Linked DNA regions of Homo sapiens: all the other regions are linked to region 2. Evidence: fine-mapped expression QTL. A gene starts in region 2. Each other region holds a variant in brackets. All regions are shown on one strand. Distances are from middle to middle.

Region 1 (5,848 bases), 69 kb before region 2:
TAAAACTTATCACGCATCAAAGCTGGATTACTGAGAGTTATGCCATTGCCTCATGTCCATTTTTAATAATTAAGCATCCAGCAGTAACTTTTTGGCAATGGGCATGAAAACAAGCTTTCTAATTAGGGATCTGAGCCAAAAAATGGATGCTTTAAAATAATTATGGAAGAAAGCCATAGGAGAGCTAGACATTTTTCCTATTCCTCATTTTAAAGGATGAAAGAGGGCAAAGACTTCCTAAGGATAAAATGGTGCCCCATTCCATCACCCATTTTAAATGACAGACTCAATTTCTTTCATCAATATGAAATATCCGTTTTCAGCTTTTCCATTTACTCAATCAGCCTGGTACCCTCAATCCTACTATCAATGTTTCTCTAATGGGGTGTAATAGGTGCCTAGATATGTACAGCTCTAGGAAAATTAGCAATATTTCACTTTCTAGAGGTGCTACTTGAGTTTTAGAATGGATACACAGTGTAAAAGGAGACTGGGTACATTTTAACTCATTTGTGCTGATTTTTTTTTTTTTTTCAGATAAAAAGGGAACTTCAATCTTTAACACTTCTAATTTAACATGTTTTATAAAATACAATGACCATATATTTTCACTTATGAAATGGAAATTGGTTATACTTTTTACCTGTTACCTCTCTGACAGTCTTGATGTCTGTAGGGGATCCAAGGCCAGAGCGGAGTAACACATAGCTGATAATCTTCCGGTAGAGGCTTTCCAATTCTTCTTTAGCACATGCTCTGTTATCTGTAATTTCTCGGGTAACAGAGCCTAATCTAGACTCTAGGACCCGGTGATGTTCTTCGAGAAATTCCACTAAAATTGCCAAATAACAATGTTCTATATATTTAATTTTTAGAATTCTTCTTACGTAAGAACTAGAGAAAAACTGGATTGGATATGGCAATTCTACTTCAGGAAAACAAGTAATTTCTTAAGCTGTAATAATGAAATAAAAAACAGTGGCCAGCATGTAGCCTCAAGACAAAAATCCAGGAGGGAAGATTTATTACAGTGACTTAAATGGAATACTTTGTCAAAACACCTAAGACTTTAAACAGCCAAACTAAACAGGAGATATCAGAAAAGGCTAAAACCTCCCAATTAAGCAGAAAATAAAGAAGACCATTTCTACAAAATATATATTATATATTTTAATTTTAATACTATATGAAAAAATAAATATATACATATTATATATTTATGCTATATGTAAGCACATGTAGTATACTATACATAAGCATATATAGTAGCAGAAATATATATGTAGTATATATGTTCCTTTCGGTTACGTGTATTTTTATTTCAGTTCTAGATAAATTTCCTCTGAAAAGCATTATTGATAATACGATGTTGCATCGAGAACTGTATCCCTCCTCATTCCTCCTGTGATATGCTGAGGGACAGGCTTCACTTTGGCAGGACACTATGTTCCCTGAGTTGTTGCAAGTACAATTCTGCAATGACTCTATAAGACAACCCATATTACTATTACAAGGTCAATAATTAACATATCCACCACGCACAGTTTATACCTATACCCTTGCCACAAAACCAACTGAGAACTTTTTGCAAATTAAAAATATGTTTAAATAACAAATTTAAAAATCTATAGGTTAAATTTTATCAATTATATGACTATTTCTTGCTTTAAAATTTCACTATTAAGCAAAAACGCAAGATATATACTTTTACATAGGTAGCATAACTGAAACTAACAAAGAGAAACATCACCAAATTGTTAATAATGATTGTACTATACAGTAGAGGTAGAGGTAGTCCATAGAGAAATAGACTTGTTTTATATAGCAGGTGCAGAGGCAGTCCATAGAGAATTACATTTTCCTTTTTCTTTTGTTTCCAACTTGTCTTTGATGTATGCATTAAATTATTTACATAATGAGCCAGGCATGGTGGCTCACACTGATAATCCCAGCACTTTGGGAGTCTAAGGCGTAGACAGATCGCTTGAGGCCTGGATTTCGACACCAGCCTGGGCAACATGGTGAAATCCCGTCTCTACTAAGAATACAAAAATTAGCTGGGCATGGTGGCACACACCTATAGTCCCAGCTACTCGGGTGGCTGAGGTGGGAGAATTGCTTCAACATGGGAGTCAGAGGTTGCAGTGATCTGTGGATCGTGCCACTGCACTCCTGCCTGGGTGACAGAGCAAGACTCTGTCTCAAAAAAAATTTACATATTGAAACGTTTTCTAAACTTAAACTCCCCATCGTTCATTTTTGAATAGTTACATAATTTAGGTAATTATAATGAGATAATAACATAAACCAGGAACAAGAAAATCTATAAATTAAAAACTTTTAACTTCAATGGGCTGAATTCCTAATTATTATGTATTAGTGCCACTGGAAACAATAATTATGAGCACAATAATTGGAATTCACTTTTAACACTCACAAAGGCCAATGGTTTTTTTTCATTTAGCATTTCTAACGTTGTATTCCTCAAAGTTGATTGCCAAAAATTAAATTGTTAAATTGATTAAACAATTAAATTCATTGTCAACCAAATGAAGCCCTTCTTAGCTGAAACACAGTATGAAATTTTTTAAGTATAAAAATAGGTAGTATACATTACCTCGATTCGTATAATTCATATCGAAGTAGACTTGCATCTTAATAGTGTCCAGGGATGGATTTTTAGTATCCAATAGCCGAGTCATACAAAGCTAGAAAAGAATGTCCCATGAATACTTCTAGTTATAGTTTTTGAGACAGTCAAGTATTTCCTAAAGTTATTTTCAAAAATAAAGGGAAAAGCAGTGGTTCCTGATATTGATTCACCAATAACCCCTTTTATTTTTTTTTTCTCCTTGAGGACTTCAGGCTTTATAGTTTATTTAACCAATAACTTTTTTTATTTTTATAGATTTAGGGGGTACAAGTGTCATTTTGTTACATGGATATATTGCGTGTAGTGGTGAAGCCTGGGCTTTTAGGGTAGCTAACACCTGAATAGTGGACATTGTACCCATTAAGTGATTTCTTATCCCTCGCTCCCCTCTCACCCTCCCAAGTCTTCAATGTCTACTGTTCCACTCTCTATGTCCCTGGGTACATATTATTGAGCTCCCACTTATAAGTGAGAACATGTGGTATTTTACTTTCTGAGTTATTTCACTTAAGATAGTAGCCTCCAGTTCCATCCATGTTGCCACAAGACATGATTTCATTATTTTTTATGGCTCAATAAAACTCCATTGTGTGTATGTGTGTATACATTTTCTTTATCCAATCATCTGTTGATGGACACTTAGGTTGATTCCATATCTTTACTACCAATAACATTTGTTAAGTAATAAGTTATTTCCCTTGAG[T/C]TAACCAATAATCATCATGCCAGGTGGCTAGTAGTCTAGTTGAAGGCAAGAAACCTGATGTTTTGGTTAGTTTGAGCAGTCTAAATGTGGGTAAATGTTCCACAAAGCTTATATTCCAGTCTAAAACTCTTCTAGAGTTCCTCATTACTATTTATTTGTGCCTTGAACAACACTCCTCATTTTATTTTATAAAAAGCTGCTGCAGCTGGTGCAGTGGCTCACACCCGTAATCCCAGCATTTTGGGAGGCAGAGGTGGGCAGATCACCCGATGTCAGGAGTTCGAGACCAGCCTGGTCAACATGGTGAAACCCGTCTCTACTAAAAATACAACAATTAGCCAGGCATGGTGGCACACACCTGTAGTCCCAGCTACTCGGGAGGCTGAGACAGGAGAATCGCTTGAGAACCCGGGAGGTGGACATGGCAATGAGCCAAGATCATGCCACCGCACCCCAGCTTGGGGGACAGAGCGAGACTCTGTCTCAAAAAATAAAATATAATTAAATTAAATTAAATTAAAATTAAAAAGCTGCTGCAACCACCCCCCTCTCTTCACAAAATTTCTCTGGTTCTACCCTTGATATTTCTTCTCCTGGTCTGTTTTCTCCTATGAGCCCCCACATAGATGGCTCATTCCCCTTCTCTGCCTTGCCTCTTTATATTGAATATCAACCTCAGTTTTTCTTTCCTTCTCTCATCTCTACTGGTCACCTCCCTCCCCCACTTCCTTCACTGCTCACTCTGTAGGCTGAATATACTGCAGCTGGCAGGCACTTGGCAGCATCACTCTCAACCCATCTCCCTGAGCACCAGCCCTGCTTTCCTGGGAGGAGGGAGGGGAGAATGCAAGACTGAGGATTGGACACTATGTCTTTGCAGAAGCCTGTGCACCTGGATCCCTCCACATACAGAAGTACTGTTCTAAAATGCACACTTAAAAAAATAGCTCATCCACATGATTTTTAGTTGAGAAAAAAATTGTCACTTGAATATAACATATGTTGTTAGTTTATGTACCTGTCGTACTAAAAGTATATTGGCTTGATTCTTTCCAACTTAGTTGAGTTGGGGAATTGGGGGGAATGGAAAACTCTTCTTGGGTCATGACAAGGAGAACAACTTATTTTCTGCCCCTCCTGGATTCTCTTCCACGGCTTTCCAATAAAATTTCTGACTGCCACAATCACTTCCCCTATTGCTAAGAACAAGCTTTATACCATCTTTTCTCTGCATCCTCACCAATATCTGTTATGTTTTTACTTTTTAAAGATATTCTAACTGGTGTAAGATTGTATCTCATTGTCAGAATAGAAAATCCAGACACAAAGCCACATACCTGCAGTCAGGTGATCTTTGACAAAGTCAACAGAAACATACACTGGAGAAATGACATCCTATTCAATAAATGGTGCTGGGAAAATTGGATTACCATATGCAGAAGAATGAAACCCATCCCAATGTCTCACCATATACAAAAATTAACAACTCAAGATTGATTAAAGACTTAAATGTAAGACCTGAAACTATAAAAATAACAGAAAAAAACCTAGGGGGCTGGGCATTGGCCTACGCAAAGAATTCATGACTTAAAAGTAAATGCAACAGAAATAGACAAATTGGATTTAAATAAACTAAAAAGCTTCTACACATCAAAATGAATAATCAACAGAGTGAAAAGACAGCCTGCAGAATGGGAGAAAATATGTACAAACTATGCATCTGACAAAGGACTAATATTCAGGATCTACGAGGAACTCAAACAACTCGACAACAACAAATAACCCCATTATAAAGTGGGCAAAGGCCATGAATAGATATTTTTCAAAAGAAGACATACAAATCGCCAAAAAGCATGAAAAAAATGCTCAACATCACTCAGCATTAGAGAAATGCAAATTAATTTAGTTCTATTTAACTTCACAGTATATGACGAACTAGTTAATGTTTGCAATGTAAGACATTAGTAACAAGGTTTCACTAAAATACTGTAGCAGATGCTGCTACCTGCCCAATTTCCCTGCCCTTCCTTCCTTACTAACAGAGCCTCAATTTGGATTGGGGCAAGGATTTATTCATCTAAGAAAGAAAAAAGAAGTGAAATGTCCCTGGGTCACTTACAATATCATTCTGGTCAATAAATGTTAAGTAGATGGGAGGGATTCTGGGAAAATTATTATTTTCTGGATAGAAGGTGATAGACCCAATTGGCACACATATTTTGCCCTTTGTCTTTCCCCCTTCTTTCTGCCTAGAGGCAGGGTAGCTATCTTTTGACCACCAGATGACCATATTGCAAGGATGGTGTGCCCCAGGAAGCCAGGAAGAATGGTCTATGTCTCTCCAGATTTTGTGTTATGAGAAAAATATCTCGTGTATACTACTATTTTGTGGGCTTTTGTTTCATGCAGCTGAAGGCAATAATGACTAATACAAATATTGTATTTACAACTGAGAATAAGTAATTGCAAATTTGAGGACTGTTGGGTAATCA
Region 2 (5,848 bases):
ACATACTGTAAAAGGAACAAACTATTGATAAACAACTTGGATGAATCTCAAGGGCATTGTGCTGAGTGAAGAAAGCCAATCTCAATGGGTTACATAATCTATGATTCTTTAGATAGCATTCTCAGTGATAAAATTATAGTGATAGAGAACAGATTAGTGGTTGTCAGGGGTTCAAGTTTGGGGAGAAGAGAGTGACAGCTAAGGGGTAACACGAGGGAGTTCCTTTGTGGTGATGGAACAGCTCCATGTTGTGATTGTGGTGATGGCACATTAATATACACACATGATAAATTTCATAAAACTCTATGCCGGGGGAAAAAAGTGTACATAAGGTCTGTACCTGAGTTAATAGTATTGTTTCAATGCCAGTGTTCCAGCTTTGACAAAGTGCCAGGATTATGTAAGATATCAATGGAAGCTGGATGAAGGGTACAGGGGAACTCTGATCTATTTTGCAACTTGTGAGTCTTAAACTATCTTGAAATAAAAAAGGTTATTTAAACGTGAAGGAAAAAATACACATGCTTAGTCCTGACCGTAGAGGTCCTAATTTAGTGGCTCTGTGTTAGATTAGTATTAAATCCAGTGGGTCTGTGTTTGGATATCTGTATTAATATTTTTTTTCAAAGTTCTATATAGTGCACTGCCAGGATTGAGAACTATCGTCCTATGAAATACTCACTAGCTCTTCTACGGACATTTCAAAATGCTTATAAAGAACAGACAATTTCAACTTTCTTTCTTTTTTAACTTAAAACAGTTCAATGACAAAGGTCACTGAATAGAAAAGATTAATTTCTAACAATAGATTTAACTTATCCACTTAAGGTTTGGGTTAGATATTCCATAAGGCATAAGGAATCAATCATTAAGGTATATCTAAGAATGGAGATACACTGTCCTGGGTATGAAAAGTCACTTTAGAGATCATAATGAATCATTCATACTAAGCACTTACTAAATGCTAAGAAACAATTTTGGAATTGATGTTTTTAGAAGATGATTCCAATTTGATCTCCCCCTACATTTTAGTTTTTTTTTCCAAACACCTCTGCTCTCCAGCTTCTTATATTTTCAAATATCAGGAGTGAAATGAAATCACCCTTAGTTTACCATTTTAAAGGAAGAGAGGATCAGAGAAGTATTGTGAGAGTTCTTAGGAAAATACCTACAAGGCTCAAGGTCAGACTGAAAACTCTTACGGGGATAAAAGAGAGATGGAAACCTATAGTACAATTTGATTTGCTTATTATATATACATACGTATGTACAGTAAACGTCCTCATGTTATCTATATGTATCTACTTTTATGCTACCAGCTACTATTTAAAGGTTATATAGTTTCTTTTACCCATTTATTAGGGTACTTTAAAATTTTTTTTTTTTTTTTTTTTTTTTGAGGCAGAGTCTCGCTCTGTCACCCAGGCTAGAGTGCAGTAGCACGATCTCAGCTCACTGCAACCTCCACCTCCTGGGTTCAAGCAATTTTCTTACCTCAGCCTCCCGAGTAGCTGGGATTACAGGCGCATGCCACCATGCCTGCTTAAATTTTTTTAGTAGAGACGGGGTTTCGCCATGTTGGCCAGGCTGGTCTTGAACTCTTGGCCTCAAGTGATCTGCCCACCTCGACCACCCAAAGTGCTGGGATTACAGGTGTGAGCCACTGTGCCCATCCAATTAGGGTGTTATTTAGAGATAATATTTCCTCTCCTACACATACTGAAAGGTGCTCAAGTATGGCCAAGGGCAAAATGAACTCACATTTACTATTATGTGCCAGGATTTATAATAGATACAAATACTTCATTAAAGTCTCATAACAACCTGTAAGATAGGTATTAGTATATTTATTTCCACATAAGGAAACAGATTGAGAGGCTAAATACCCTGCCCAATACATACAACTGTAAGTGGAGAAGCTGTATTCCAACCCATATTCTCCTCAAATATCCCTGTAGGGACAAGCAACTCTGAAGAGAAAAAAGCTGATAAAAGTCTATGTAACAGAAAGAATGACACATAAGGCTATGAAGCATTAGAACAAAGGAAAACGATAAAGTCACTTACCTAGTATGTCTTTGTGAGTGTAAAAGCGTGTCTTAAGTGGCTTGTATTCATGGATCCGTTTGAAGGTTTTTCCAAAAGGGGCTGGTGGAATTATTTTATTACAAACAGCACAGCAAACAAAGTTTTTGTAATCTGAATTTCTGATCATAGTTAAATTTCAGATGTCTTCTCCTACTTACAGTTAAAATAATCTTAGAATCAGAAAAAGTCGTTTCAAGAAAAGCTGAAAGTTTAAGAAAGCTGGAAGAGGTTCAGGGTTTTAGGATAATGCTAGAGGCTGGTAAGGATTAAATGGTTCAAGTGATTAGGCTGTGGTTATGTGTCTAACGTTAAAGAATGGTGCTAAAAGCCCCTGCCATAGAAGGTATGGGCACCAGATTTGGGAAGATTTAAGTAGTTGCTCCTTCCCAGACTCTAGCATTAAGTTGTTAACTTACTTGGCAACTGTTGCTAGGTAAGACAAGCTTTGCTCATAAAAGCAACTTCAAATAATGACAAAAGGGAGCATGATACAGCCATTCATTTTCCTGATACTTTCTATATTAGTTTCCTATTGCTGCTGTCTTACTCTGTTTTCTGTTGCTTATAATAGAATACCTGAAACTGGATAGCTTATAAAGAAAATGAAATTATTTCTTACAGTTTATGGAGGCTGAGAAGTCCAAGGTGGAGGAGTTGCATCAGGTAAGAATCTTCTTGGTGGTGGGAACTCACTGAAGATTCCTGAGGTGGTATAGGGTATGACATGGCCAGGGGCTGAGCTCACATGCTAGCTCAGGCCTCTCTTCCTCTTCTTATAAAACCACCAGTTCTCCTCCCATGATAATCCATCAATCCCTTAACCCATGAATGAATTCACTCACCCCTTAAAGGCCCCACTTCTCAATACTACCACGTTGGGGATTAAAGTTCAACATGAGTTTTGCAGGGGACAAATATTCAAACCATAGCACCACTGTGACAAACTACACAAACTTCATAGTTTAAATGTAACACAAATTTATCCTCTTGCATTTCTGGAGATCAGAAGTCTAAAATGAGTCTTAGGGGCTAAAATCAAGTTGTTAGAAGGGCTGGTTCCTTCTGCAGGCTTCAGAGGAGAATGTGTTTGCTTGCCTTTTCCAGCTTCTAAAGGCCATCCATATTCCTTGGGGTCATGGCCTTGCATCATATAGCCTTTTCCCCCAGTGCTTCCATAGTGACATTGTCTCTTCCTCTGATCTTCTGCCGTGCTTTAAAGACCTTGGTGATTATACCAGCCCCATCTAGATAATCCAGGATAATCTCCCCATCTCAAAATCCTAAACTTACCCATATCCGTAAAGTCCCATATTTACAGGTTCCAGAGATTAGGATCTGGACATTTTTGCAGGGAAGGAGAGCATTAGTCAGCCTACCACACTTTGTTTTAAATTAGTTTTTAAAGAATTAATTTCTTTTAAGGCCAGCAATGGAGGTAGCTTAATTTCTTTTAGGTTTTTAATAAACATGATGTGTTGGTGCCATGGTAATAAAACTGGGAAATATCATGGTATCTTGAAGAAGAAATTACTTTCATTAAGGCAGCATTCAAAATTACTAAGCCTGGTTTTAAAAATCACATGGTTAACTAATTTGTTCCTATAATTTTAGATAAACAGCCATAGAAATTCCACCTATCGCAAAAATCTGTGCAACTGATTGTACCAAGTAACTGAATTTATAAAATTGCCTGACAATGTCATATGCTGCATCTACTTGGCAGGACTATTTTATAATAAGTGAGTGCCATCAGTGAAATTAATTTCAACAACAGGACTCCCATAGGGCCCTGAGCTAAGTGTACCACAAGTTACTCTATAATTTATATTAACACATACGGCCTGATAACTGGCTGAAGACCTTAAGTAACTATCAAATTGTGCCAGATTTGACTTCAAGAAAAGGGTTAACTGGGACTTGGAGAGGAATTAAAAACAAAGAGATGAATTAGTATGAAGAATGAGGATTACTGCATCCACACAGTTAATTATCTGGATTGAGAACTGAGGCTACTTGTGCCAATAACTTTCCTATCTGTTACTAGAAATTCTTGCCCAGATGGAAGGATAACTAACTGGCCTTGATTTGCCTGGGACTGTCCCTGTTTTAAAACTGAAAGTCCTGAACTTCCTTAGTGTCTGGCAAATTGGAAGAGTTGGGCCTCCTATGGAAGATAAGGCTGTAAAACCAATAAATACTTTCAGTGTTTGCCTTAGGAAATCCTTGAAAAACAATTTATCAATTGGACAGCTTGCTGATCTAGGCAAACAGCTCTTCCATCAGAAGATTAGACTACTCCCCTGGGCAAAGAGTTCACTTAACATTTATTGAACAATAGTTTACTAATCAAGACTTGCTTCAAGATCTAATCTGTTCTGTCAGGTACCTTGCCCATTCTCAACCAGATTCCTGCATTGAAAGACCCTTCTTTAATCACTTGAACTCAGACTTCCAAAAGACTTTAATATCTTCCCCTGACCATCCCATTCTTAAATACAGCTAACTTTGTAAAAGTGGTATTTCCCTTTAGTGCAGTAGATTTAATAAGCTTAGTTTTGTTTGATCATCAGGTTGTTCTGATGGTCTTGTGAGGGAGCTGGCAGTTAACAGTCCTTTACATAATTCTGTTTTAAAGTACAGGAGTGTTTCTCTACTTAAGATCTAAACTTCTTATTTTTAAGGGCTAATGTGGCTGCTTTATTATTATGTGCACATTTACACATAGAAGGTGGTATAGTATGGTGAAAAGATCCCTAGACTTTAGAGCAAGAAGATACAGGTTCTACTCCTGACTGAGAATCTCCCTGATCTTTGGTAAATCTCTTAGCCATTCTCAGCCTATTGTCTTAACCATAAACTGACAGGATTGGATCAGGTGAAGTTCAATGTTCAGAATCTTTGGACTATTTGAAAGGTATTTTATTTTTGATGGTTATACCCTCATTCAACAAAGAAAGGATGAAAACATCAACACATAGGCAGGCAGCTGTTGACACTCAGCACACACAAAGACTGTCCTACAACTTGTAGTCACTCTGTAAAAAGTATCATAGTCAGGTACTTGTTCCTAAAATTCAGTATGATTCTTTCCACACACTACTTTTCACAGCTTTGTGCTTGACTGACTCTAGTTACTTTGGTTCATTCACATAGATCTTACATGACTCAAGTCTGCACCTTGTACAGTTTCTGTTGCCCTCCTGCACTGCAATCTCTTGACAGTTCACGCAACTAATAACTCCTCTGCCACCAAACATCAGCTTATTCTGTTGAATAGTAAAAAATTCTAAAAGATGGCAATGTGTCATTAAATGCATAAGTTAAAAACAGAAGAACCCTAGTTTTGTGATAGCCAAAATACACAGGGAAAACAAAAACAAAAGAGTCTTTAAAAGGGATTTTGTATCACTGAAGTGCATTTTAAACTATATGAAGTACATTATACAGACAGGCATAGCAAATACATATTTGGGGCTCAGTAGTAAAGATTTTATTTAGTTTCATGTAAATTCAATTAGCTAAGTTCTTTAATACCTACAAATCACACATAATTACATTTTCATGTACCTTACAAAACCATAATAAAGTATGACAAATTAAAAATAACATTATGATAAACTCTGCCTGTGCTGTTATTATTACTTGGTAATATTAATAGCGACTGAAGCAAGACTTCAGAGGTAAGATTTACTACTGAGGCCCAATGACAATGATTTGGAGAATTAGGTATATATCTAGAAATGAAACGGGTCCAGAACCC
Region 3 (5,848 bases), 26 kb after region 2:
GAGGCTTTATCTACATAAGGAGAACCTTGGCTGCCACAACACCCCCGCTTACCTTAACTCCAGCTGGCTTCACATCTTCAGGCAGAGCTTAACTCTTTCAACTAATTGAAAATGTGAAAAATCTTTGAATTCATCTTTGACCTGGAAGCCCACCCCCACGCTGCTTTGAGATGGGCCAAACCAATGTATACCTTACATGTATTGATACATGTCTTTGCCTGTAACTTCCATTTCTCTAAAATGTATAAAATCAAGCTGTAGCCCGACCACCTTGGGCACATGTTCTCAGGACTGCCTGAGGCTGTGTCACAGGCCATGGTCCTTAACATTGGTGAAATAAACCTCTAAATTGATTGAGACCTATCTCATAGACTTTCTGGTTTACACAAGTTATATTAAAATGAACAGAATAGTTGGAATAGAAGGTACCAATATTTTGGCATGGGTTTATGTAAAGCTTTGGTAAATATGTTTCGAATTTAAAACTTTTTCTCCCAAGCCAAATTAACTTCACATTTGATTTGAGGTTTAATTTTTAAAAATTTTTAATATTTATGTGTATGTATTTATGGGGTACATGAGATATTTTGGTACAAGCATACAATGAATAATAATCACATCAGGGTAAATGGGGTATCCACCACATCGAGGATTTATCATTTATGTTACAAACATTCCAATTATACCCTTAGTTATTTTTAAATGTACAATCAACTATTGCTGACTGTAGTCACCGTGTTGTGCTATCAAATACTAGATCTTATTCATTTTATCTGACTATACTTTTGTACCCGCTAAAAATCCCCATTTCCCACTCCCCCCATCCCCACTACCCTTCCCAGCCTCTGGTAACCATCATTCTACTCTATTTTCATGAGTTCTTTTGTTTTAATTTGTATCTCCCACAAATAAGTGAGAACATGCAAAGTTTGTCTTCCTGTGCCTGGCTTATTTCACTGAAAATAATGTCCTCCGGTTCCATCTATGTGGTTGCAAATTGTTTTTTATGGCTGAATAGTACTCTGTTGTGTATATGTACCACATTTTCTTTATCCATTTATCTGTCGATGGACACTTAGATTGCATCTAAATTGGGTTATTGTGAATAGTGCTGCAGTAAACATGGGAGAGCAGATATCTTTTTGATGTGTTGATTTCCTTTCTTTTAGGTATATACCTGGCTTGAGGTTTAATTTTTAAAAGTTCATTGACAACTGGTATTACAAGGCAATCTTCTGACAAAATAAGTTAAATTTCAATTAAAAAGCTGTTACTGCAGTAGCTAAAAACAATTGGAAGGCTATAAAATATTATTATGTTGCATCCTAAGCAGACCCAAACTTTTTTCTTATCCCTTAGGGTTCTCAGTGATCTGTAACATGTCAAATATCACTATGGAAACAAAGTACTTTTACTGTCATGATCAATAGAAAGTGATCAGATGAAAGAATACAAGAAACATAAGCATGTGTAAGAAAAGAGCACAAGCTGTAGGTAAAGATAACAGAGAAAAGCCTGAAGGCCTTGCCCATTTCATGGATATGAATACAATGTGAATGATAGGACGTGTTTAGTCATTTTTGTTTATAATTCATTCCATTTTATGCTGCTTTTAAGAAATTACTTTGAAGAGTGATGCCAATCTGATTCGGCTTTTGTAATCTTCATTTTGAGCAGGGCCATCAATATTTAATAATATTTCCAGGAGATTTTGTATTTGATGGGATTGCATAAAGCAAAGATTAATCTGTATGAAAACACATTCAAAGGGACCAATGATATCTATTTTAATCTGGGGTTCCCAAAGTGTGCTCTGGGAACAACACTGGTGGTCTGGGAGCCTTCTCAAGGGACCACTGATGCCACTAGCGCTTTTTAAAATTCAGGCAAGAATAGTTGGTTGACAATATTTAATAAAAATCATACATTACTGGTATTTTGTCAAAGCCAGGTCTTTTTTTAAAAAATAATAACATAAATGCTGGCACTTATTTCTTTTCCTACCAGAAAGCCAAGCCAAAGTAGTTGATATGATCAATGTGAGCCAAGGATATCTGACTCCCTTGAATGAATTATTAGCTGACAAATGAAAAAATTACACGTTTTGGTAATTTGAAAAAATCTTCCTAATTCTTCACCCCTCCCTGTGTCCCCACCTTTATCCATGCTCTCCCACTCTGACTCTGGGGGGTCACCCTTGTGATTTATTTTTGCTAATATGATATTAGCAAATGTCACACAAAATAAGCTGGAAAAACACCTGAACTGGTAAACATACTCCAGCTAGCCTGCTGGAGATGAAAAACATACAGAGCAAAGCCAAGTCATCCTAGTCATTCCAACTGAAGCCACTGTAGATTGACCAGACAGGTGTGCAAGCCTTGAGTGAGGTCAGTCAAGCCTGCCCAGATCAGCTGAACTCTGCAGATTCATGAACTTAAATATGTGTATTTTTGTTTGCCACATTGAGGTTCAGTTCGTTGTTGTGCAGAATTATGGTGCCAATAGAAACTGATAATATGCCCTCCATTGTAAATTCCCTGGGATCAAAGAGTATTTGCCTGATAGCTTAAGGAGCAGTCTGTTTTCTAGTGGTGCTTGTAAGAAGGACAAACATCTTGCTATTTTTGAAAACTGTATAGCTGTCTGGCATCACAGGAATGTCTGACCTGGGAAGAAAATGAAATCTATCAAATGGTGTGATATATAAATTAGTAAAAAAAAAAAAAAATAGAATGGGGAACTGATATTATTAGAGGATCACAATTCATTACTCTTTTTCTTCCATATAATTTTAGCAGAACTGTTTTTAATACTTTTCATGTCAGGTCATTTTGTATTTACTTCTCTCACATTTTGAAATATTAGAAATAATAATAATTTATTCTATATTATTTAAAGTCTTAAAGTACCTTAAAAGTGATATGAGATGAAAACATTTTAATTCTAACTGTTCTTCTTTTGAAAAAAGCATAAGTTTATTATCAGTGTAGTTAGGCTCAGGTTAGCAGGAAAATTTTTGGTGCATTCAGTGTGCCACATGCTTTCCTGGGCACCAGGAATTCAAAGATGATTAAGACATAATCTTTGCCCT[T/A]AAAACTCTTAAAGATTAGTGAGGGAGGCTGGCCACCATGGCTCACGCCTGTAATCCCAGCACTTTGGGAGGCTGAGGCGGGCAGATCACCTGAGGTCAGGAGTTCAAGACCAGCCTGGCTAAAATGATGAAACCCCATTTCTACTAAAAATACAAAAAATTAACTGGGCATGGTGGCGCGTGCCCGTAATCCCAGCTACTTGGGAGGCTGAGGCAGGAGAATTGCTTGAACCCGGGAGGCGGAGGTTGCAGTGAGCTGAGATCACGCCATTGCACTCCAGCTTGGGCAACAAGAGCGAAACTCCGTCTCAAAAAAAAAAAAAGGAAAAGATTAAAGATTAGTGAGGGAGACAAATTAAAACAGATAATTTCTTGTTGTTTGTTTGTTTGTTTGAGACAGGGTCTTGCTTTGTCGCCCAGGCTAGAGTACAGTGCCGCAATCTTAACTCACTGCAATCTCTGCCTCCCAGGCTCAAGCAATTCTTGTACCTCAGCCTCCTGAGTATCTGGAGTTATAGGCGTGTGCCATCATGCCCGGCTAATTTTTTTTTTTTTTGTATTTTTAGTAGAGACAGGGTCTCACCCTGTTGGCCAGGCTGGTCTTGAACTCCTGATCTAAACTGATCCATCCACCTCAGCCTCCCAAAGTGCTGAGATTACAGGCATGAGCCACCACGCCCAGCCAGATACTTTCAATATAAAGTGATTTGCACAAGATTCTATGGAAGCACAGAGAATTATATGTTGTTTGGCCTGGATATAACACAGAGGATGGTATGTGGCTGATGACTGAGCCCAGAATCACAATCAAAGTGATAAGCAAGGCAAAGAAGTTAGAAAGGATGTTTCAGGTCAGAGGAGACAGAATGAACACAAACCTCAAAGCATGAAGCCATATAGTGTGGTGCGGTGTGTTTCTTATTGCTAAAGAATGGATAATAAAATGGAACATGAGAGAAATGACACTGGAGAAACAGATGGGGCCAGTCCAGGAAGGCTCAGATGCATCCACGTTTAGGGAATGAGTACAGCAGGAGACCACAAAAGGGTTTGAGAAGAAATGGTCAAAACAGAGTGAGGAAGATCAAAAGTGGAGTGTTTTGAAAGCCAAAGGAGTCAAGATGATTAAGAAGATTAATGCCCCAGTGGCTTTGCCACCAGCCAAGCTCCCCTACAAGCTGTTGTCCTCCTTTCTAAAATATACATCTAATCATGTCACTGTTTGGCTTCACACTTCCTGATGGAACACTCTTTCCTACACCTGCCCTTTGCCTCACTCCTACTTATCCTTCACAAGGATAATCAGGGGAGGCATCACTCCCATAGCTCAGCCCTGCTTGGTGTGTAGGAATTGTATTCTCTGGGAGCTGACTTTTGGAGAAGAACTGGAGCTATGCAAGAAAAAGAAAAGGCTAAGAAACAGAAATAATTTTATGAGGAGGGGACTAGAGCAGGACAATCCTGAGCTCTTGCAGAGATTGGGCACATGGATCCAGCAACTTCTACCCCCACCCATTCAAAATATCTAGTGACTAGCATAGGAGTTGATAGGAAAGGCGATCATTTCCTTCTTGCTTAAGTGGGAGGGAAGATATCTGCGCATCAGCTCATGTATACAGAAGAAATTGAGAACAGCAAGTTTTCTTGTTCCTTGGCCAACTGAAAACAAATCTGATCCCCTAAAGGGATGGTGATCAGGAAGAAGCTGAAGAGAGAATTTGTTGAATATAGGGTCTTGAAGACTCAGCACACACCTGTTATTTCAGTTGCAAATGACAGAAACTTGACTGAAACTAACTCAAGTTCAAAAGGAGTTATGTTACCATATGTAATGGGAAGTCTATGGAGGGAACAGATTTCAGCAGTGAGATATGGGACATCCAAACATGTCAACAGGAATGTCTTGTCTCATGTCTCCATTCTGTTTCTTTCTTTCTTTCTTTTTTTTTTTTTTTTTTTTTGAGATAGAGTCTTACTCTGCTGCCCAGGCTAGAGTGCAGTGGTGTGATCTTGGCTCACTGCAACCTCCACCTCCCAGGTTCAAGTGATTCTCATGCCTCAGCCTCCCAAGCAATAGTAACTACAGGCACACCCCACTATGCCCTGCTAATTTTTTTTGGTATGTTTAGTAGAGATGGGGTTTTGCCATGTTGGCCAGGCTGGTCTTGAACTCCTGACCTCAGGTGATCCACCCGCCTTGGCCACCCAACGTTCTGGGATTACAGGTGTGAGCCACCGTACCTGGCCTCTATTCTGTTTCTTAAATACACTCATTTCATATATTGGGCACATCCCTGCTGGCAGCTCCAGGTTTCTATCCTGTTAAAATACATCCAAGTGGAAAGGAAGCCTTCCCTATCACCCATATATCAAATCTCATGGAACAACTCTTTTGGCCTTGTTTGGGTTTGTGCCCTTTTTCAGGACAAATTGCTTTGGACAGGAGGAAAGATATCATTGCTGGACAGGCCAGGGTTAAGGTCACATTATCATAATTGTGGAGGTGCAGTTCCCCACCAGTTGGGTTGGGAAACAGATGCTAGGAAGATGAAATCAGCAGACGCCCACTTCACACAAGGGGTCGGCGGGGAATATGCTCCTGAAAAGCAGCATCCAGAAAACAACTCTTTTCCACTGAGTGGTGCTTTTGCCACATTTTTGTGGAAAAGAGATGCTTTCTTCCAATGGTGGCTAATTAAATGAGGGGGCCAGAGTGGAAAGATAGCTGGGCCTATCTTTGCTCTGAGTACACAT

The links. PIP is the estimated chance that this variant, and not a neighbour inherited with it, causes the effect. A credible set is the group of variants that fine-mapping cannot tell apart.
Region 1: its variant is the best candidate, but not a certain one, in a credible set for the expression of C6orf163 in whole blood (TOPMed, PIP 0.50).
Region 3: its variant is the best candidate, but not a certain one, in a credible set for the expression of C6orf163 in testis (GTEx, PIP 0.61).

What each region holds. Positions count from the first base shown.
Region 1 is chr6:87,410,670-87,416,517 of GRCh38, reverse strand. It overlaps CFAP206 (cilia and flagella associated protein 206), which reads right to left. Exons shown (of 13, transcript NM_001031743.3): 4 at 2,618-2,708; 5 at 644-832. Among named protein-coding and RNA genes, the nearest start is that of CFAP206, 5.6 kb to the right of the region's middle. The variant T/C (reference allele first, on the strand shown) is at 3,357.
Region 2 is chr6:87,341,467-87,347,314 of GRCh38, reverse strand. It overlaps C6orf163 (chromosome 6 open reading frame 163), which reads right to left and starts at 2,502. Exons shown (of 5, transcript NM_001010868.3): 1 at 2,068-2,502. The coding sequence starts at 2,215. SMIM8 (small integral membrane protein 8) reads right to left here. Exons shown (of 4, transcript NM_001042493.3): 4 at 4,986-5,848.
Region 3 is chr6:87,315,003-87,320,850 of GRCh38, reverse strand. All of the region lies in intron 2 of GJB7 (gap junction protein beta 7), which reads left to right. Among named protein-coding and RNA genes, the nearest start is that of SMIM8, 4.7 kb to the left of the region's middle. The variant T/A (reference allele first, on the strand shown) is at 3,095.